3 linked regions of the Homo sapiens genome follow. The protein of the gene in region 2 interacts with the protein of the main gene of each other region in a pairwise test. Each region holds a gene or a part of one and is shown on either strand. Other genes may lie near its edges.

Region 1 (7,024 bases), on a different chromosome or scaffold from region 2:
ACACAAACAGATTGAATATAATAACTGCTCCTGGGCCTGGAAACAGACACACTCCTACCACCTCCACCATTCTGCTTGCTTCCTGGATCAGTTGAAGGCAGAGCTGCATTCTCTTTTGTGCACAAAGTTGGGGATAGAGGGGAGGGCTGGAGCCAGCCATATCTTGACATGACTGTAGTATGTGTAATCGTCCCGTGGTTGTTTCTGGATTCCAAGAGTGGTCTAAGAGAATTGTGCTGCAGCATAATGTCCTAGCTCTGCAACTGCTTAAGTTGTCTCTGAGAAGCCTCCCTGGGAAGGGCAAGGGACCATCTGCAAGGAGGGGAGGACCCAAAATCTGTGACTCTGTTTCCCTCCTGCTCCTTCTACACTGACTCCCACACAATGTTTTTCTGCAGAGGAAATCAGATTAAAATAACTATGAATGGCACTAAGAGTAAAAACGGACAGAGAAATGCAACCAAGAAATACACATATTGATTAGCAAGAAGAAGCCTAGCATACTTCTTGCCCTGGTGATGGTGGGAAGTTTACGGGCTAATTGTAGCTATATGAGCCTCAGGACTTTTTTTTTTTTTTTCCAAGTGCTACTTGGCTAAGCCCTTTCACATTTTCCCCAGCCTCACCTTCCCCAGATTTGCTACATCTAGAAGGAGGTACTGCAGCAAGAAGATAAACTAAAGGAAGATGTGAGCAGTTCCTAGATTTTAAAATGACCTCTGTGGTTTTTCATTACCTTTCTCTCCCCACTGCAACTTGGATAGGTGTTAGCAACAGTTCCTCTTCCACTTTATTTAAATCATTTTGTCCCTGGCTCTGTGCTGCGCCTCTTTCAGGAGCTTCTGGGACAGAGGGAATTTGTAGAAATAAAATATGTTCCCTCTCAGCCCATTTCTCTTAGAATTGGTAAATGAGGTAAACTGGGAACTTCCCAGGATGCCCCATGAGAACAAGTGTGTCTCTCTTCCCAGATGCTGAGAGCTGAACACTGTTGGACTGTTGGGAAGTGGATTGAGAACGCTAGTCTACTGGCAGGGAAACAGGAGCTTCTCTGAGCTATTCACATTGGTACCTGAGAGAGGCACTTTACTGTTCTGCTGCCAAGGAAATGTTTCTGTTTGCCCAAAGGGGATAAAAACCTTCATCTTTCTCTTTGAAATTAGGAAAGAATAAATATATTTTTAAAATAATAAGAATTTAATATTTAAGTATTTCTAAATATCACTCAGATACTTAGAAATAAATCCCTGCCAGAGATTGTGAGTTTAGGTTATCCTTTTCCATGGGGCTTAAGCTCTCTTAATTACTTAGGAAAAATTAATTTCTATTAATATCCTATGTAGCCAATCTGTGCCAGCCAGTGGTATCATCATCGTTGTTAGATAACCTTGCCTTGAAGCAGAGGAACTTGGTCAAGGACAGCCTGGACCCAAAAGAATTCACTGTTATCCTCCCTCCCCCCATTAACAACAAATAAATAAAATATTCCTCAACACAGGATCAGCCATTCCTAGAGAAGGCCTTCCCTAAATATGAGTACTTAATCAAAGGATCTGCTTGTTTTATTCTAAAAGGCTAGCCTTGTAGAGTCCCTGAGTTATAGTGTCCTCTCTATATTTTTGGAAATCCCAGTCTGGTTTTCTCCAGTTCTGCCTGCCTCTGGCTCCAGAGCACTTACATAATAATGTAATTCAGTTGCACATGTTGTCTAATCCAAAGGGTAAGCTTTGCTCTCCCAGGACCATGTGCTCTGAATTTTGGCCATGTGAGCTCAGCTAAGAGCTGCCAAGGGTGAAGTGCCAGCCCCCAACACCACCATCTCCAATGCCCAGGCCAGTTTCCTTCAGAGTCCCCTCATTGGAGTAAAGAGAAATTGGAGTAAAGAGGAGGGTTCTAAGGGACCACAGAAGGCCCAAGGTTCTCTCTGGTGAAAGAATGCATATACCTGCCCACTGAGCCTTTGCCCAGTCGCAGCACTGCTCCAAATGTGAGGGACAGCTGTCACCTGGCAGGCCTCAAAGGTAGTACCCTAGTGGTGGCTTCTCATTCTCTGCATTCTCTGGCTGCCTGGAGTCTGGAGATACTGGGGACCCTCCTCACATCCCTGTCTATTGCCTCCGTGTGGTGGCTGTCCTGAGCCCTCCCTTCCCGGGTTGACTCGGGAGGGAAGTTGGAAGAAGCAGAGCATTTCTAGCAGGCCAAAGGGGAGGCAGAAATATGGATGCTCAAGAGAGAAAGTTTAGTACAAACAAACTAGAAGCAAAGAAAGGCAACTTGTAACAGAGACTAGAAGTAAAGTTCAGTTTTCTAGAGTAGTGCTTGTGAAACTTTAATATGCAAATGAATCACCAGGGGATCTTGCTAAAATACAGATTCTAATTTTGGAGGTCTGGGTTAGAGCCTGAGATTCTGCATTTCAACAGACTCCTGGGTGTTTCACAGCCAATGCTGCTGATTGTCAGACCACACTCAGAGGAGGAAAGATCTGGCAGCAGAGGTGTTGCTGGCCTTTGAGTTGGCCTGTGGTGCTCCCTAATGGCTGAGCCCAGGGCAGCACAGCCTCAGTGCTCTGTTTGTTGAGAGGCAGTGGCTGGCTAAAAACGAACATGTCAAGCCTGACAGATTGCCTAGGTTTGAATTCTGGCCACTTACTAGGTATATGATGTTGGGCAAGTTTCATAATCTCTCTATGCCTCAGTTCCCTCATCTATAAAATGGGAATAATAATATTACCTACTTGATTGGGCTGTTTGAGAATTAAATGAGGTAATGTATGTGAAACAAGTAGAATAGTGCCTGTCATTGTAAATGCTTATTAAATGTTAATCATTGCCATTATTATCATTATTTTTATTTAGTTGCTGGGTTCAGAGTTGGGCCTTCTACCAGCCTCACATCTCTGCTTCCTGCTATAAACATCTTTTGTGAAAGAAGAAAAGGGCTCTCATAGGATTAGCTGTACTTTAGAGATGCTACGAGGAATCTCTCCTTTTAGTAAATGAGGTCTAAAAATAAAGTTCTATAGAAGGCAGATTGCTACATGTTCTGGAACCTAGATTTCATGTGCATTCCAACCTTATTTATAGCTTCAAATCAAAGTCCTATGCAGCCTGGTGGACTGTGAAGGAAAAGACCCCCAAAGCGCATGGCAAGGACACTCCTGGGAGCTGCAGATGGAGGACCCTGTGTCCTGGGGTTATGAAATTTAAATCACTGCTCCTAGCCCTAGGCATTCTACCTGGCAGGGTCCAGGTTTCAGATGGCATGAGACCATTTGCATGGATTTCTCTTCTTTTCCTTCCAGAAGAGTGGTGAGGCTTGGGGGAGGCCAACACAAGTGACGCACTTGCAGCTCCCTGTTCCTTTTCTGGAGGTGACAATTTTTCAAAAACAGAAATTCACAGAGGTGGAGCTTTTGGTTTGCATAAAGCAGCATTCAACCTGTTTGTCTTCCATCCCAACCTCTCAGAGAGTCTTCCTCATGCTCTTTTGCAAACATGATGCTTTGAGCCGAGGCCAGGGCTCAGCCCATGCTAGAATGTGGGTCGGTGGCATTGGCCGTAGGAGTGTGTCAAGTTGTGTACGTCAGAGGCAGCAGTGGGGGCTGGTTCTAGTTGGCAGCCTGGGAATAGTCACTGCTTCTGTAAGCCTCCAGTAGTCAGGGAATGTGACTGTGATGTGCCATTTCTATTGTTGACAGAGAAAAATGCTGGGGATGGGTGGAGACCCAAGGGGTAGATAGCAGGTGCCTCAGAGGTATCTGTGACATATGCAGATTGACCTGTGGGTTCTTGAAGAAGAAGATAAGAATGCCAGTGGATTACCTGTAGTCACATTGCTATTAGAGAACAGGATTCCAAACTCCTGAGGGCCTGCAGAATCTCAGCCCCTGGAACAGAGTTGGTGTGCAACTAGAAATCTTTAGAAATGGGGCACAGAACCCTCACGGTGGCTCACGCCTGTAATCCCAGCACTTTGGATGGCTGAGGAGGGCGGATCACTTGAGGTCAGGAGTTCAAGACCAACCTGGCCAACATGGTGAAACCCCATCTCTACTAAAAATATTGTTTAAAAAATTAATTGGGTGTGGTGCACATACCTATAACCCCAGCTACTCGGAAAGCTGAGGCAGGAGAATCGCTTGAACCTGGGTTGGGGAGGTTGCAGTGAGCCGAGATTACGCCACTGCACTCCAGCCTGGGCGACAGAGCGAGACTCTGTCTCAAAAAGTAAATAAATAAATAAAAAAGGGCACAGAGAGGAAAATGTGGGTTTCAGAGTGACCACCCTAGGTTCCTGAATCCCCAGCTTTGTCACTTAACAGCTATGGTCTTAGACAAATTAATTCACCTCTGAGTGTCTCAGTTTCCTCATCTATAAAATAAGGATGGTACTATTTCCTTCAAAATAGTTGAGAGAATTAAATGCAGAAATGCACTTAAAAAGCATGACAGAACCAAAATCCCATTGATAACCTTGGTTGCCTCTGGGGAGTGAGGGAGGGGAAAACCCTTTCTACTATGTACCACTTTGTCACTGGAATTTTGAGCCACATGAATAGTTTATCTGGTTATAATGTTAATTTAATTTAAAAATAAAACGCTGAAGGCACTCAGCAAATGTTAATGTCCTTTCCCTTTCCCCTGGTGATCCAGGTCTCCTGCTGAAGTTCTTGCCTAGCTGCGGTCTTCCCCACCCCCACCCCCACAAAAATGTGAAGATAGCTATTGAGAAGTACCTTTTAAGGCCTTCTCCCTCTTGGGATGAGAACCTGATCACCAGAGCCCTGGAGAGGCCTGGAGAGTGAGCCACCTGCCAAACAAAGCTCTGGGAACTAGGGACCCATTGCAGGCTGTGAGGCTGTGGCAGCAGAAATACGCATGGCCCAGAGCATGCATGCAGAAAGTCAAGGAGTCTTTTCCACCAGAGTAAGGAGGATTTTCCCGGCTGTGGCAGTCTGGTCCTCTGCTAAGAGGACCTTAATGCTTCATACCACAGTATTGCACTGGCTTTTCAGATGGCTCCCACGTGAGTCTCACAACAACCTCATGCTGGGCAGATACTTATATCTAGCCCCAGAGACTGCGAGGGAGTAAGTGACTAGCCTCTGATCACACAGAAACACCACACTAGGAACAGCTCACATTTATCTCATGATGTCTGTGTGCCAGGCACAGTGCTAAATGTTTTTCACACATTATTCGATTTTCTTTTCTTAGCAATTTTATGAGATGGGTACTAACATCAGCTTCACATTACCGGCGAGAAAACAGGCAAAGAGGTTAGGTTATTGCCTAAAGTCACACAGCTAGTAAGTGGCAAGACCAGGGTTTGAAGCAGAGCAGCGCTGATCCACTACCACATCCCTCCTGGGCTGGAACCCAGGCCTCTCCAGCCCTAGTGATCATGAGGCTGCCTGTTGGGCATAAACAGCGAACCAGTTTCTCCCTGCTTTGTTAGGAAAGAGAGCCACTCTTCATGATGTTATCACTAACAAGGCCTGTGTGGACTCCACAGGTTCCTACTTCAGTCTCTGGAAGATTTGGACACAAGTTTAAGGAAACTGAACTCCCGCCTGTTTGTAGTCCGGGGACAGCCAGCCGACGTGTTCCCAAGGCTGTTCAAGGTAAGCGTGCAGAGCCCCAGAGAAGACAGTGAGATTCTGTCCCTGACGGTTTCCCCACAGCCTGAGTGATATGATATTCCGACTGAGGGAATGGAAACATCAGGGCTGGTCTGGCTGTTGCTGCTAGAGAAGTTGGGAGCAAAGGCAGCCAGTTAGCTTGCTCTTGGAATGGAAACTGTGTTAAGGAAAAAAATTCTGGGAAACCAGTGTCTTGTTGGAAAGCTCTCAGCTCAGTCCAGACATAGGATGTGGTAAGTCATTCCACTCTGGATGCCACTGGCTTCCTTCAATGTTTTCTTGGCTCAAGCCAGCCAGATTTATTAGGGTTCCTTCTAGGCCAAGACTTTGAGGTGGGGTTTCATGTCTAGCAAGGTACATTTCCCATCTTGCTTTGCTCTGCTTATTGGGAAAAGTCAGCCTTTTCTGCCGGGCGAGGTGGCTCACGCCTGTAATCCCAGCACTTTGGGAGGCCGAGGCAGGCGGATCACGAGGTCAGGAGATCCAGGCCATCCTGGCTAACATGGTGAAACCCCGTCTCTACTAAAAATACAAAAAATTAGCTGGGCATGTTGGCTGGCACCTGTAGTCCCAGCTACTCGAGAGGCTGAGGCAGGAGAATGGTGTGAACCCGGGAGGCGGAGCTTTCAGTGAGCCGAGATTGTGCCACTGCACTCCAGCCTGGGCAACAGAGCGAGACTCCGTCTCAAAAAAAAAAAAAAAAAGGTCAGCCTTTCTGAGGAAGCTTTCTTGTTTCCCATGGGGTAAATGATTGATAGAAATCTTCATTTTGGTGCCACATAGGTTTCTGTTTGCAGTAACGGGGCCAGTCCACTTTTCCCTCAATCCCTTTAAAAAGTATATTCTAAGGCCCACATAGAAGCACAGGAACTCATGGACAGAGGGCTGTGGGACAGACTGCCATCACCCTCAGCAGCACACAATGATTGTCATGCCCCTCCCCACCCTAACTCCGAGACAAAAGGAAAAGTCATGTCAAGGCAAACAGCTTAGTGAATACATCATCCTTCAATTCCCCTCCCCGTAACCCCACACATAATTGTGCATACATGTACAAATCACACAGTGCTAGTAATTGCCCACATTCATTGAGGGCTGCCTATGAGTCAAGCGCTGTTCCCAGTGCTTGTTTACATCAACTGAGTTCTTCCTCACAGCAGGCCTAAGAGGTGGCTACTGCTATCCCGATTTACAGGAGAGGAAACAGTCATTGGTTGTGAAGTTAATAAGTGACGATCTTGGATTCTGACTCTAGAGCTGTATCCTTACCCACCATACCATATAAATACATTTGCCTCCCTTCTCCCCTCGACATTGCCCTTTTTCTCCCCCAGCAACTCAGAGGCCAACCCACTTATATCCCAGAGATATAGCTAGGTC
Region 2 (7,943 bases):
TAAATAATGCCCAGTGCTGGCATGCACACTGGCAGTATACAAACTGAGAAAGACTTTCTGGAAAGTGCTACAGCCATGTGACCACAGGGCTTCACCCTGTGACCTCATTAAACCTAAGCAGATTACAGGTCTGAAGGGGGCTTTCTTTAGATGTGGCTCCACCTACTTAGGGGCAGATGAAGAAAACAGGGGTCTGGGCAGTTCTGAATGGGAAGGCCAGGCATCACCTCCCTCTTCAGTTGCACAAAGTGTGCGTGGCATCCTCACATCCCATCTGCCTCAATTTCGCTTTTTCTCTGAACACTTTTCACCATCTGTCTGAAGCACACACACACATTTTATTCACTTCCCCATTCCCATGCATGAATGCTAGGACCTTTGCAATTGTGGGCCAGGAAAGATTGCAAATGATAAGCCACCAGCACAGAGAGTAGAAATGAAATCCTGGGGTTACAAGCTAAAGCATTACTGACACCCACTTGTCCAGAACGGCTGAAGCTGGGCGGTGACTGTCAACAGGTATATACGGACTAGAAAGTGGAGCTGCTGGAGGAGGCCCTGTACCTTCCTGCCATGACACAGCCTCCCCCCAAGTGCTGGGCTTGTGTGCTCAACACTCCCTCTTGCTGTCATCCTACCACACCTGCAGACTGGAGGTAATCCAGATGCAAGGCCGTCGAGTCCCGCAAACACCCACCTGCCTCTTAATTTTCCAAGTGAGACCTACATTTCCTCAAGCGTGAAGCTCAATAAAATCAACTATTGTTTTCCGTTTTCATCACGAGCGCCACTTTCCCCCTATTTGTTCACCGCCTCCACTCCACAAGAACTGCTCTTGACTTGGCCAACTTTCTGGGACACCCTCACTACAAGGATTTATGAGTCAAACAGGTTTTTGTGCTAGCCTGGAAATCTAACTGCTGACAGCAGTTGTTTCAAGAAGAAAATGCTGTTTTGGAACCAAACAGCAGGCTGCCAACTGAAACAACATAAACCCACCTCCAAGTTCAAATGAAACAAACAAACAAAAAGACTGGTCCAAGTGAGGCAAGCTGTGGTGGCTCACACCTGTAATCCCAGCACTTTGGGAGGCCAAGGTGGGCTGATCACGAGGTCAGGAGTTCGAGACAAGCCTGGCCAACACAGTGAAACCCGTCTCTACTAAAAATACAAAAATTAGCTGAGCGTGGTGGTGGGCGCCTGTAATCCCAGCTACTCAGGAGGCTGAGGCAGGAAAATCACTTGAACCCGGGAGGTGGAGGTTGCAGTGAGCCGAGATTGTGCCACTGCACTCCAGCCTGGGCAACAGAGCTAGACTCTGTCTTAAAAAAAAAAAAAAAAAAAAAAGACTGGTCAAAGTGGCTTACGTCTGTAAGATCAGCACTTTGGGAAGTGGAGGCAGGAGGATCTCTTGAGGCCAGGAGGTTGAGACTAGCCTGGACAACACAGTGAGACTCTATCTCTACAAAAAATTTTATAAATCAGCTAGGTGTGGTGGTGCAGGCCTGTAATCCCAGCTACTCAGGAGGCTGAGGTGGGAGGATCAATTGAGCCCAGGAATTTGAGGTTACAGTGAGCTATAATCATGCCACCATAAACACGCCTGGAGGACAGAGTGAGGCCCTGTTTCTAACATACACACACATATACACACAGAAACATCTCGAGAGGACACCTCCAAATGATGAAGCTATTTTGTTGGGTACTGCGGTGGCACCTGTGATTCCTCAAGTAGCTTGGAATCAGCGTGCTAACACCATAAAGTGGCTGCAAAAGTCCCAGTGAAGTCACTGCTGAGAGCAAACAGGCCTTACAGAGAAGTTCCAAGGGGACAGGAAATTTCCAGAGGCTTGAGAGGACAATGTTCAGGGGAATAAGTACTTGAAGGGAATTATCTAACAAGGTGTTAAAGTAACTAGCTTCTTAGACAAGATGACATCAGGAGGAAAAAAAAACTTATTAAGGCAAACATGTCAGTTTCAGGCCAACTAAGGCTGTCAGAGAGACATGGAACACAAGAAGAGAAGAGTTTTGAAATGTATTCCCATCAAGAGCCAAGAATAATGAACTTTTGAATGTAAAACTTAGTGTGTTCCAAAACAAGAAAGGAAAAATAACTTGTTACTCGGAATCGAAGCCAAAAGGAATCTCATTGCTTGGGGAGGAGGGATGGGAGGGTGGGGGTGGTCCTTGGCCTGGGAAGGAAAACTCCACCAGGCCTTCGGAGCTGGGCACGCCCTGTTCCCACAATTAAGAAAAAAAACGACGACCTAGAGCTCAAGGCCGGTGCTGACATCTGACCTACTGGATGGCAGCCGCCTGTAGGAACATCACCATAGACTATTGGAATTTTCTGGCAAGTACTGGGCACTAAATCAGAGATGTGTTTTTAGAGAATTCCATGCCAATACTGCTGTATAGAATCTTTTATTCATACTTTCCCACTAGGTTTGGGCCCCTCTAAGCTTTCACGAGTCAAAGACCCCTCCTGCTTGCTGAAACCACCCACGGAAGGCCGGACACCGAGGACCTGGCCGCCCAAGCAGAGGCGACTGACAAGCGCGGTCCGGGCTGGACGGCCCCACCTTCCCCGCCCGGGAGAGCCAGGCCGGACAGCGGCCTCCCTCAGACCCGTCCCCAAGGCCGAGCCTCGCCCTGGGCCGTGCTGGTGCCCCATTCGGGACGGAGCGGTGGCCCGTCAGCACTTCCACGGCCTCCTCAGCAGGCCAGATGGGCAGGGCCGGCCTGGTGTCTCCCCGCCTGGCCGCGCGCTCGCGGGCAGCGATGACCCCAGGCAGCGGGCGACCCCAGGCGGACGGCAGGCCGGGTCTGCTCACTCACCGTTCGCTGCCGCGGGCGCCTGCGGGGGCGTCTACATGCCGGACCGAGCCCGCAGGCCCCGCCGCCGCGCCGCCGCCAGCCGTCGCTACCTGGCCCTTGGCGCCCTGGCCGCCTGTTGCCCCATGGCCGCCCGGACCCCGGCGCCGGCGCCGCCGAGCAGCAATGCGCCGCGCCCGCCCACTGCGCAGGCGCACCCGCCACGCATGCGCGCTGCCGCGCACGTGGGGCGTCCCGCGCGTCTGCCGGGTCCCACCGGCGCCGGGACACCCCGCGCGGGCGGGAGGCGGCGGGCGTGGCGGGAAAGAGGCGGGCGGTGGGGAAGAGGGGCGAATCGCGGTGGAGAGCAGTGACCAGGGAGTGGAGGCGGGCAGCGGGGACAGGGGCGGGCGTCCGCGACTCGGGTAGGCGGGGGTCGGCGCCCCGAGGAGGGCGGCCCCCGGCTCCCGTCCCCACTCACCTGCCGCGTCCGGAGGGCGCCCCCGGGTCCGCCCGCCACGTCTACGCCTAGGCGCCCCCGACATTGTGATCCCAGCCCGGCGTCCCGCCCCCAACTCACCGCCACCGCGGGCGGGACCTCCCGGACCACGTGGGCCGGCTCAGGGGAGTGCAGGTGCCCCGCGAGAGCTGGCCCCGCCCGCCGCCGCTTCCCTAATTACCGGGCTGTGACACGGTGTGGGCCGAGCCGGATTTGGGAACCGAAACTTAGAGCAGCTGCGGCAGCGCTGCGCTCCCTCGGGGCTGTCCGTCGGGGCTGGGAGGGCGGCCCTGCGCCTGGGGGAACCGCGATCGGCCTCACGCCCACCTCTAGCGGCCAGGTGCGCCTTGCACGCCCACGAACGTCCTCAGAGGTCTACGCTTGGGATCCCAAGGCTGGCAGTGGAGGGAGGACCCGGTGGCCTGGGGCACCTCTAGGGGGACCAGGGAGCCGTGTTTTGCGCACCCCACAGGCTGGAGGACTCGGGGAGTTGGGGGAGGAGGCCAAAGCCACAGGAGCGGACTTTGTAGTGTTTGTTGGAACTGCGGGTCCCACCCAGCCCGCACTTGCTGAACTGGTGGCTGCTCATCAGCGCCTTCAGGCCTCAAATATCCCAATAATGTGCCCTATACCCAGTTCTCAGCTCTCGAGTCACTGTCAGGTAAACTGGCAATGCACGACCAGCTGCTCTAACCTGCTGGTCCCCCAGGTGCCAGACATTGTTTTGTTTTTCTGAGATAGTGTCTCATTCGTCCCCCAGGCCGGAGTCCAGTGGCGGGCTCACGGCTCACTGCAGCCTTGACCTCTCAGGTGCAAGCGATCCTTCCACTTCAGCTTCCCTAGTAGTTGGGACTACAAGTAGGTCCCGCCACACTCGACTACTTCATTCATATATATATATATTTGTGTGTGTGTGTGTGTGTGTGTGTAGAGATGAGGTTTTACCATTTTGCCCAGGCTGGGTCTCAAACTTCACCCGCCTCGGCCTCCCAAAGTACTAGGATTATAGGCGTAAGCCACTGCACCTGGCCCAGCCATTGTTTTCTGAGGTTCAGTCCCTGTCTATACTTTCTGTGTGATCACCTGGCCCAGGGTCGGTGTGGACCTGAGTCCTCTGCAGCCCTTCCCCACACCCGCATACCTGCTCTCTGGTCAGGACTCCTGGGACTTGAATCCAGAGACACGGAACACGGCCTGGCCAAGTCTTCCTGAAAAACACAGCTCTTCAGTTCAGGACCACAGTGAAGTACAGGGCACCAAGGGTGACTGGAAAGGGAAGCAAGGATCATGAGAACTTGGGGGATTTCTTAAGCTCTGTAACTTCTCCCGGGGTTATTTTGCAAACCCAACTGTTTCAAAGTGACCACCAGCCACACCCACAGAAGCGGCCTTGAGCTGCCCAGTTCTTTTTCTTTGGCGGGGGGAGAGGGGGCGGATAAGATCATTAACATAATAATGCGTGAGCTGAGTTTTTGCATATGATCATTAGCATAATAATGCTTGATCTAGATGGCGCACCCACAAGCCAGGCACTGAGCCAGGCCTCAGTAGAATCTTCTAGAGTGGAGGCAGTCAACTGCTTCTGCAGAGGCAACCAGTGACTGTCGTGGGCCCCAGGTCACACAGCAGGTGCCCTTCGCGTGTCCCGCTGTGTAGGGAGCTCCAGCAGCTGCCCCGTCTGTGGCATGAAAACCCTTTGTCTACCCTGGGCCTGGGCACTGCCTGCAGGAGAGCTTCCCTGTTTCAGAGATGAGAAAACAAAACCAGGGCTGTGGTTTCCTTCAGCTGACAGGTTGTGCAATTTCTCAGGGCAGGCCCCGGATATGACCTTGAAGATTCAGGGGCCAAGATCTCACACCCACACCTCACCCCAGGCCTGGCCAGCAATAACTAAGACCAAAGCTGGGAAGGCTCCTTAGGGCACCCAGAATGGTCCAAGAGGCAGCTTTGCTTGGGCTGAGACCAAAGGGAAGAGATGTTCCCGCAGCAGGAACAGAAGGGTCCAGGGCTATCATGGGGGCTTCTGCCAGATGGTGCACAGGAAGAGGCTCTGCCTTCAAGGGATTGGGGGTCAGGAAAGGCCCCCTCCTGCCTGACCAGGCCCCAGGGATGGGGCAGCAGTGGGTGGCATCCCCTGCCCTGACCTTCCTCAGCCCCAGGGCTGCCATTGCTCAAGGTGGCAGTGGACTCTTCACATAATTTCGCATTGTTTTTTGTATTCTTTAAGGATGGCTCCCATGTTGTTTACTTCAGAACCCCCAAAACCTGGACCCATCCTCTTCTGGGGGTCAGCAGGGATGGGGAGGGTGGAGGGAGAAGGGGGAACGGAGGCCATGAGGGATGGAGCAGGATGGGGTGCACTGGGGTACAGGTTGCTCCTGGGGAGGCTGAGGAGAGAGGGAAGTTGGCTTCAGGTGGCCTGGCTCCAGTAAACTGGGTGAACGAAGTCTGCCCAGAACCCACAAGGGTAAGTGGCCTGGAGCCTGGGGAAAGGATGACTGGGAAGGACTGAGGCTCCCAGTGAAGGACATCAGTATGGCAGGCTATCTGGTCATCTCATCCAGCCTCCAGCCAGCACCCGGCACAGGCCCTGCCCAGGCTGAAAGCCAGGATAGGGGCGTCTGCAGGGGCCAGTGTCTGGATCTGCTCACATGACAGTCTTCTGTTTGGCCTGGTTTGGGGCGAGGGGCAACCTCTTTCCCAGGATGCCAGCCATGTGCAGGGCATACTGAGGATTCAACAGTGGAAACCAAAGTCCATCAGGTGTTCACCTTCTAGTGGGGCAGACGGGCAAGAAGCAGAATTGGTGGGGGCAGGCAGGGGTTGGGGTACAGTTTTGACCAAGGTACCCAGGGACAAGTGTTTCTCTCTCAGGCAGAGGCAGCAGCAAGGACCAGGACCCTGAAGTGGTGAGAGCCTAGAGTGGGCGGGGATCATCAACAGTAACCACCTGGCAGGACTGGGACTCCCTGTGTCCTCACAAGATCCTTACCAAGCAGCCTAGTATAAGACGAAGTCTCGCTCTGTAGCTCAGGCTGGAGTGTAGTGGCATGATCTCAGCTCACTGCAAGCTCCGCCTCCCGGGTTCAAGCCATTCTCCTGCCTCAGCCTCCAGAGCTGGAGTTACAGGCGCACACCACTGAACCCGGCTCATTTTTTGTATTTTTAGCAGAGACGGGGTTTCATCATGTTGGCCAGGCTGGTCTTGAACTCCTGATCTCAGGTAATCCATCCACCTCGGCCTCCCAAAGTGCTGGGATTACAGGCGTGAGCCACAGCGCCCGGCCACAGCCTGGTACGTTTATTGTCCACATTTTTCACGCGGGGGCCAGAGGCACAGAGAGGCCAAGTAACTTGCTCAAGGTCACCCAGCGAGGAAAGGGAGCTGGGGGGTGGGGGTAGGGGACAGGGCGAGGCCAGAGAGTAGTGGGAGGGGCCGAGGCGGCCTTTCCCGGGAGCGCTCGGTTCCCGGCCGGCCCTTCTATTGGCCCCAGTCACTCAGGCTCCCAGGTCCGGCTCGGGGGGGAGCGGGGGGCCGCGCCAGGCCGCTGAAGTGTCCCCGTTTCGCGTGGGCAGAGCGCGCCTCCCCACGCATCCTGCTGAGGGCCAGCCTCTGCTAGGTGCGTGACACGGAGGGGACAGAACGGAAACCTTGTCCTGCTCAAGTGTGGACGTGCGTGCCACGTGCTAGAGTAAAATTGAGGTGGGGAACCTCCATCCCTGGGACATGGAGCACAGGGGCGACCCCGCGCCGCTTGGTCAAAGGAGGTCCGAGGCCCTGCAGGAACAGCCCACAGCCGGAGCGAGCTGCAGGTCACTCCACTGCCTGTGTCCACCTGCGACAGGTGCGCCCGCGCAAGCGGGGCGGAGCCAGGTGACCCGGACACAGGAAGCGCGCCAGGGGCCCCCACACCGCGGAGCTGCTGGCGACAAAGGGCGCTGCTCCTGCATAGGCCAGGCTAATGCAATCTACAAACTAGATTTCTGTGCCTACAGTTTGAAAATGATTGCAGTTCACTCAGCCAGTGTGGAATTATCCTCCTCTTTCCACACTGCCTTAGTCAGTGCCGCTGTCCAAGTGCACGTTGTTGGCGCCCGTTTTCATTTCCTGTTTTGCTAAGAAAGTGGGGCAGTGGCCTCCATGCCCGCCAAGGGACAGGCAGGCCGCCCCAGGGAGGGGTCCCCCTCAGCTCTGGCTCTTCCAGGCCAAAGCCAAGGGGAAGGGGCACCAGAGGGTCCCAGGTCCCACATGCCAGCTCCCTCAGTCTGCGGGGTGCCAGGCTAGGACACAGAAGCCAACAGGAATCCCCAAAGGGAGGAAGTGGAGTCGGGGGTGTGGCAGCCGTGCTGAGATGCTCGGCCTTTATTTACTCTGGGCAGGGACCAAGATAGGCCACTGCAGGCCGGCACCCTGCCTCCCGGCTGCTGGAGCCCCTCCCTCCCAGGAACTGCCAGCCAGGAAAGAGCCTCAGGTACTCTCTGCATTTAATTTTTAATTTTTTTTTTCTTTTGACGCCTCCAAGACAAGTTCAACTCTCTAGTGATTTTAAGTGGGGTTTTTGTAAGACAGCTGGCAGGGTTAGGGCTTGTGAAGAACTTGCATGTCTATGAAGAACTGATTTATTTC
Region 3 (6,934 bases), on a different chromosome or scaffold from region 2:
AAAATCAGCCTAGACTCACTTTTGCAAGATTTGACTTTAGGACTGAACTCATCTCTGTCTCCAGTTAGGTGTAGTAAGTCTCCAAGTCTCCAAAAGATCCAGCTAAATCAACATTTACACTCTTATGTAACATCTGTTCTGAGAGTGAAGTTCGTGGAATTGAATAACCTTATAAATGAACTGAAACACAGGCCTCGGGATTTTTAAACATGTGTGTACAGACATATCCAAAAAATTCAGCATATGGGCAACGAGAATTTGTCCATTGCAATTATAATTGCAATTCATAATATGCCCAGTCTCCATCTGCAGGTTGCAAATGCTTATTACACCATTATGTGGCCAGTGTGGGCCTCAACTGTGGAAAAAGTTTTTGGAGGAATATATTTGGAATTCAGTATCTTTTTAAAAGTTGGTAGAATGAATTTATCAGAGTGGTGAAACCATAAACACTTTTTGGGTTTCATGGCCCCAGAATGTATATGTACCATATACACAATGTCTTATTCAAATGTAGGTATTCAAAAAATGTTTATTGAATGAACATATATAAATGAATGAATGAGTGCGTTTTGTAAAGGAATCTGGGAGTCAAAATCTGGCCAGAAGAACCCAAGTCCTGCTCCAGTGACCAGATCAACCAGTCCAATTTTCCCACTGTGCTCAATGTTCCTCTTTGGTTTGTAACAAGAACCACTGTCCTCTTTGACATAGTGCAGAAACAAATGAGAAGCAGATGAGCAGGAAAGCCCTAGAGCCTAGCATTCATGTTCAACCTGATTTTCTGGCTTCCAGTATTTTGGCTCATTAAACAGGAAAACAAAATTAACTGTTTATAATTTTCAAAACACTTTGCATTTTCACTCATTCCAGATACAAACAACTTTAAAGACAAAATCACAAGGAGGGTATGTGAACAAGGCCTAGTTACCAAAAGAGGTCACATGAAAATTAAAAAGCATTCAAGAGTAAATAGCAGTCCATATTGTCCAGGGGGATGAGCTATGCAACCTAAGTAAAAATTAAAACCAAATTACAGACACTAATTAGTGTTGTATAACATACCGATTCATTTGCATACAATGCAATTATCCTGATAGGTGCTGGATTCAACACATCCAGCTGGGTTAGTGCATCTCCACGGAACAAAAGCATTCGGTTTTTTTCCCTGTGTGTTGGCTGTGTTCTCTTATGACTGTGACGGCAAATAAACAATCATTCCCAGCACCTTTAGACTTTGAACATTTGAAATAAAATCAATACAGATTGTGCATGGGGAGCATTCAGCCCCCCTCAGATGAACAACTAACAGGCTGATTCTGGGTCAGTACTCCATTTCTAGAACATTTTATCTGATCTTGTGTTTTAGAAAACCACATTTATTTTATGCTATATAAAGAATTCTTCTTCATCTTCTTCTTTTTCTTCACCCTGAACTTGCAGATGAAGGAGACATTCTGAAATTGTCTTCCTGGTACCAAGGTCCCTTTGGCCAGCAAGTGGCAAAGGAGAGACTCTTTCCTTAAGGACACTGTTGTTTTTGGAGGTAGCCACCCCCAAGGAAGAGGCTGGCAAGCAGAATGGTGGCTGGCTGGTCTGTAAATCCCTTGGAAATCCGCCAAAATAAGTCTGCCTGGGTTCAGAATTTATGATGGTCAAGCCGGTGTCAACATTCGTCTCGGCCTCAAGCTTCTGAAAGCTGTTTTCCCGGTTGAGGACCTTCATTCTGGCCCCGGATTCAAGGTGATGAGAAGACAGGTGCAGGTGGGCACCCATAGCTGGGCTGCTGACCTGGAATGACCGGCCAGGGCTTTTCCACGAAGTGCCAGCACACCTGTCTGATGTGGGGCTCCCACTGGGCTCAGGAAGCTCCAGAGAATGCCCCTGGGACCTCTTGCCCTGGTTCCTCTGGCTCCTGGGTTCTGAGGTCCTCTTTGCAGAGACAGAAGTCAGCCTGGAGCCCAGGGGAAGCATGCCAGCTCCCAAGATGCCATTCTTAACACCAAGTTCTGGATTCAGCTGAACCTACAGGAAAGGAAAGGAGGAACATATGAAACATAATTTCCATTAACTAAGTGCCAAGAGCTGACTATGCCTTATTCACCCTCTGCCATGCCATGCCCATAGCAGACTTTCAGTAAATTTGGTTGAATTGAATAGAAGTGATAAGTACAATATAATTATGAGATATCTAATCAGACCCAGCCCCAAATACCTCTCTTTGGGACTCCCTAAATTAAGTTTTTGACAAGGGTAAGACTTTGGGAATCAAATGGCCAATTGACAACACCACACTTCTGGTAGAGCAAGTTGTTCAAACAATGCAGACATTCACAGATGTCATTCAGTGACCTCACTGGATGTTGTAAATGATATATTTATTAGCAACCATGTAAAAAAAGAAATTTAGAAAGCCACCAAACCATGTGGTTAAAGTTAAGATAAGGATTGAAGTAAGAATTCAATCTTCCAAAGCTGGTGATCCTTCTTTTAGATCATGCTAATAAAAATACATATCTTGGGCCATTCTAAGACATGTGACCACTCCAGACGGCTAATAATTTGGCAGCAATATTCTTTAAATTCTTGGGGCACCATTTATTTAGATTAGAGGCCTGGTATTGCATGAGAAAACAAAAAGGGGGCATGGCTTATATGGAAGTTTAGGTGTTTTCATCCTTAGCAATTCCACTCTGGTTACAAACTTACAGACACCACTCAGCAAAACCCTCACCCTGCAGTTGACTGCACTCTCCCTCCACAGGATGGAGTTCACTGACCCCCCTTTAAGACTTCCACCCTTGGGAGCCTTGCATCCTATTCCATGCACAACACTCTTCCCAAGAAGATTTCTGGAAAAAGGCAATTTTTTCCATTTTGATAACAGCCCTTGGAAATTTGTATCCAGGATCCATCCCTACCTGGCCCAGCCCTTAATCAAATATCAAGAAGAATGATACGGAAGAACTTGCAATAAATACTACTAACTGAAAGAAGCCTATCTGGGCTCATGCCTGTAATCCTAGCCCTTTGGGAAGCTGAGGTGGGAGGACTACTTGAGGCCAGGAGTTCAAGACCAGCTTGGGCAACTAGCAAGACCCCATCTTTACAAAAAATAAAAACATCAGCCAGACGTGTGGTCCATACATATAGTCCCAGCTATTCAGAAGGCAGAAGAGGGAGGATCCCTCGAGCCCAGGAGTTCGAGGTTAAATTGAGTTATGACTGCACCACTGCACTCCAGCCTGGGTGACAGAGAGAGACTATATGATGCCAACTATATGACACTTTGGAAAAACCAAAACTATGAAGACAGTAAAAAAATCAGTGGTTGCCAGGGGTTGGGGGGAGGGAGGGATGACTAAGTGGAGCAGGAGGACTTTAGGGCAGTGAAAACTACTCTGCATGATACTGTAATGGTGGATGCACATCCTTATACATTTGTCCAAACCCACAGAATGTACGACACCAAGAATGAACCCTAATGTACCCTATGGGCTTTGGGTGATGGTGATGTGTCGTTGTAGGTTGATCAGTTGTAACACATGTACCACTCTGATAAAGGATGTTGACAGGAAAGGAGGCTCTTTTCGGGGGGAAGGTTGTATATGGGAACTCTCTGTTCTTTCTGCTTAATTCTGCTGTGAACCTACCACTGCTGTAAAAAATAAGGTCTATTTCAAGGGAGAAAAAATAATGATACATATTTATCTTACAAGGCAAGAAGGCAGAAATGAGGACAGTGAGAAAACAGGTCTAGAAATCAGTAAATTCTCTCTCTCATACACACACACACACACTCACACAGAGCATATTTGTTTGTATAGATGACGCAGAGTACATCTCAATTTTCTGATAGAAATGGTGAGGTGCATATTACCAAGCTGCAAAAACAAACACACAAAAAAACAAGGACTTCCACTGATTCTTTTAGAATAGAAGTTGGCAAATATTTTCGGCAAGGAGCCAGACAGTAAATATCTGAGGGTTTGCCGGCCATATGGTCTTTATCCCAACTATCCAACTCTGCTGCAGAGCAGCCATAGACAATATATAAATGAATGGCTGTGTTCAGTAAAACTCTATGTATGAACACTGAAATTTGAATCTCATATTTTTTATGTGTCATGAATTTTTTTCCAACCATATAAAAATAGAAAACTATTTTTAGTTCTCAGGCCACAGTTGACCAAGCCCTATTCTAGATCAATGATTCCCTGTCTTTTTTTTTTTTTTTTTTTTTGAGATGGAGTTTTGCTCTTGTTGCCCAATCTGGAGTGCAATGGCGCAATCTCAGCTCACTGCAACCTCCACCTGCCAGGTTCAAGTGATTCTCCTGCCTCAGCCTCCCTAGTAGCTAGGGTTACAGGCATGCACCACCACGCCCAGCTAATTTTGTATTTTTAGTAGAGATGAGGTTTCTCCATATTGGTCAGGCTGGTCTCAAACTCCCAACCTAAGGTGATCCATCCACCTTGGCCTCCCAAAATGCTGGATGACAGGAGTGAGCCATCTCTCTATCTTAAGAAGTTTTTTTCCAAACAATTTCTTACCTGGAAGCCCAAAATATGAAGCAATCTAATTAGCGCAGCCCTGGTTGACGTACAGAGGGTAGCCTCTGCCTACGGGACCCCCTCTCTAGTTCCCCAGGGCTTCACAGAACCAGCTTGAAAACCACTATTCTAGAATATCTAAATTCTACCCCTGAGCCAAGCCAGTTCATTAGAGCCACACACACCTGAAACCCCTATCGCAGATGTGCTTGCACTGAACCACAGCTGAGTGCAGTGCCCCAGAGTGTGTTGAAGAGAGCTTCCACCAGCATCAGATACTCTCTCTAGGGGCGACACTGTTGAAGGGATGCCCACTGCACCGAAGGACCTGTCCTTATGCAAACCCATAGGAGAAATTTCTGTTCCCAAACTTTGCTGCACAAGGGAACATCCTGGGATCATTAAAAAACAATGATGCCTGCTCCCAGCCCATGACCTCCTGATTTCATCAGGTCAGAGTACACCTGGCTGTCAGAGCTGATAAATCTCCCCCAGTAATTCTAATGTGCAGCGAAGTTTCGGAACTACTGCCATGGACCCAGAAAAGCTAGGCTTCGAGTAGTCAGTTAACTTGCGGTCGTTGTGAGTCTGTTTCTTATCACATACACCCGACCTCCTCCTCCATATTTCTGAAAAATTCTTTGCCTAATTTCATTTTGCTATCTCTCTCTACATTTCCCTTTGCTCTAATTCCACAGCTCCGCCCTCCCTCCCCTCCTTTCTTCCTTCTCTCCTTCCTTCCTCCTGCCCTTCCTTTCCTTTCTTTCCTTTTCATCTGTTTGTTTTTTTAAAAAAGTCTTACTATAAAAGTAGTAATTTATCACCATAAAAATAATTTCATTGTACAAATGTATAAAATAAAAAGTAAAGCCTTCTCCCTATCCCAACCTCAAATCACCCCCAAATTCTCACTTTCCAATGAAGACTATTTGCTTATCCTTTCAAAATCAGGAGGAAAAAATACTATCTCCGAAATGTCAGCTGGGGTTTCCCTTCCCCTGGAGAACAAACTCCCTTAGTCCTTCAAAGGGCCAACTGCCATCATTGCCTCTTGGAGAATCATTTGACACTGTACCCTTGTATCATAATGTACCTTTTTAATTGACCCAATGACATCTTTTTCTTCTAGAAATGGAAACTGGCATGGATATTTCCATACTGAGAAATGGTTCAGGGTTGATATTAGATTATCCAATCTGGAGAAAGAAATCAATAACTTTGACTCTGGGGCTTGTATTTCATTCTCTAGCAACTGTGAACACAGAGAGAAGCCTGAGTAATCGCCCCTTGCCATCTAAATCAATGTCAGATCATAATGAAATTGGTCCTGAAGCCCCAACCAGTGCCGAGACATCTCAGGGCAGCCAGGAAGCGCCCTCCTGGGCCAGCCCAGCTCACCCCTCCACTCCCCTCTGTCACCCAGTCCCACAGCCCCTCCACTGGGCCTTCTCCACCTGCAAATGTCCCATCTTTGAAAGATTCTATTTAAGCCAGGCATTCTGAGGCCATGGGCTCCGGCACTCAATTCCCCATCACATCTGCTCTTCAACATCAACACTCCCAATCCCCAGCTTCTCCCTGTCAGCCCCTCCCATCCACACTGCCTTTCAGAGTCAATTTGAGTCCAAAGACTATCACTTCAACCATTTCTTCACCAATACCTCCAACTCCCCTCACTATTCCCATTCTGTCACAGACTCCCACAAAATCTCCCCACCTTTCATCCATCTACCTGCCCACATTTTCTGAACATGTGTTCAGGATGCCACAGAAACACATCGGTCTGTGAAATGGGTGCCCCATGATGGCGTGGTTTCCGGCCTCTCCCAGGCTACCCGCCAGTCTGCCTGCTTCCTTAGTCACCTCTCTCCATTCACCCAGCAGCTGTTCAAACCTTCAAAACTGTCCTGAAATCTTCAGCAGCACCATCGCCCCCACTCTCTCTCATCAGGTGGTCTCACCATCCAGATTATCAAGGAAGCAGATGCTGTCACCAGTTAGCAACACTCTCACTGCTACCGCGAAACTTACCTGCAGCTTCACCATTCTCTCTAGGTGAAAGTGACCGGTCCCTGGGCCAAGACTCCCATCACCTCCCGCCTTCTTGGTGACCCTGACCTATCAATTATTCATTTTTCCCACTTTCTTATCTTGGATGTTTAATCTCTCTCCCTCTCCTTCTCTTTCTCTCTCTCTGCCTATTCCTTTCCAACAGCAATTAAACTTGTTCAAGTCTCGTGTCTTGAAAAACACATTCTTTCCACCCTCTCTTTCCCTCCAGGTTTCTCTGTCCTCCCCTTCACTGTCAAACCTGTATATAAAATTTGTGTAGTTATGTTTTTCTACAAACCTCCCCTTATTTTCTCTACCCATGCCACTGA

Evidence for each region.
Region 1: the proteins of NADK (region 2) and CRY2 interact in binary tests that used the Homo sapiens proteins (3 or more experiments, as listed by UniProt).
Region 3: the proteins of NADK (region 2) and FAM124B interact in binary tests that used the Homo sapiens proteins (3 or more experiments, as listed by UniProt).

The regions. Positions count from the first base shown.
Region 1 is NC_000011.10:45,850,465-45,857,488, forward strand, and holds part of CRY2 (cryptochrome-2), read left to right. Parts: intron 1-5,517; coding exon 5,518-5,626; intron 5,627-7,024. UniProt on the Homo sapiens protein: Transcriptional repressor which forms a core component of the circadian clock.
Region 2 is NC_000001.11:1,775,448-1,783,390, forward strand, and holds the start of NADK (NAD kinase), read right to left. Parts: upstream 3,024-7,943; 5' UTR 2,842-3,023; intron 1-2,841.
Region 3 is NC_000002.12:224,378,184-224,385,117, forward strand, and holds the end of FAM124B (protein FAM124B), read right to left. Parts: intron 2,026-6,934; coding exon 1,390-2,025; 3' UTR 515-1,389; downstream 1-514.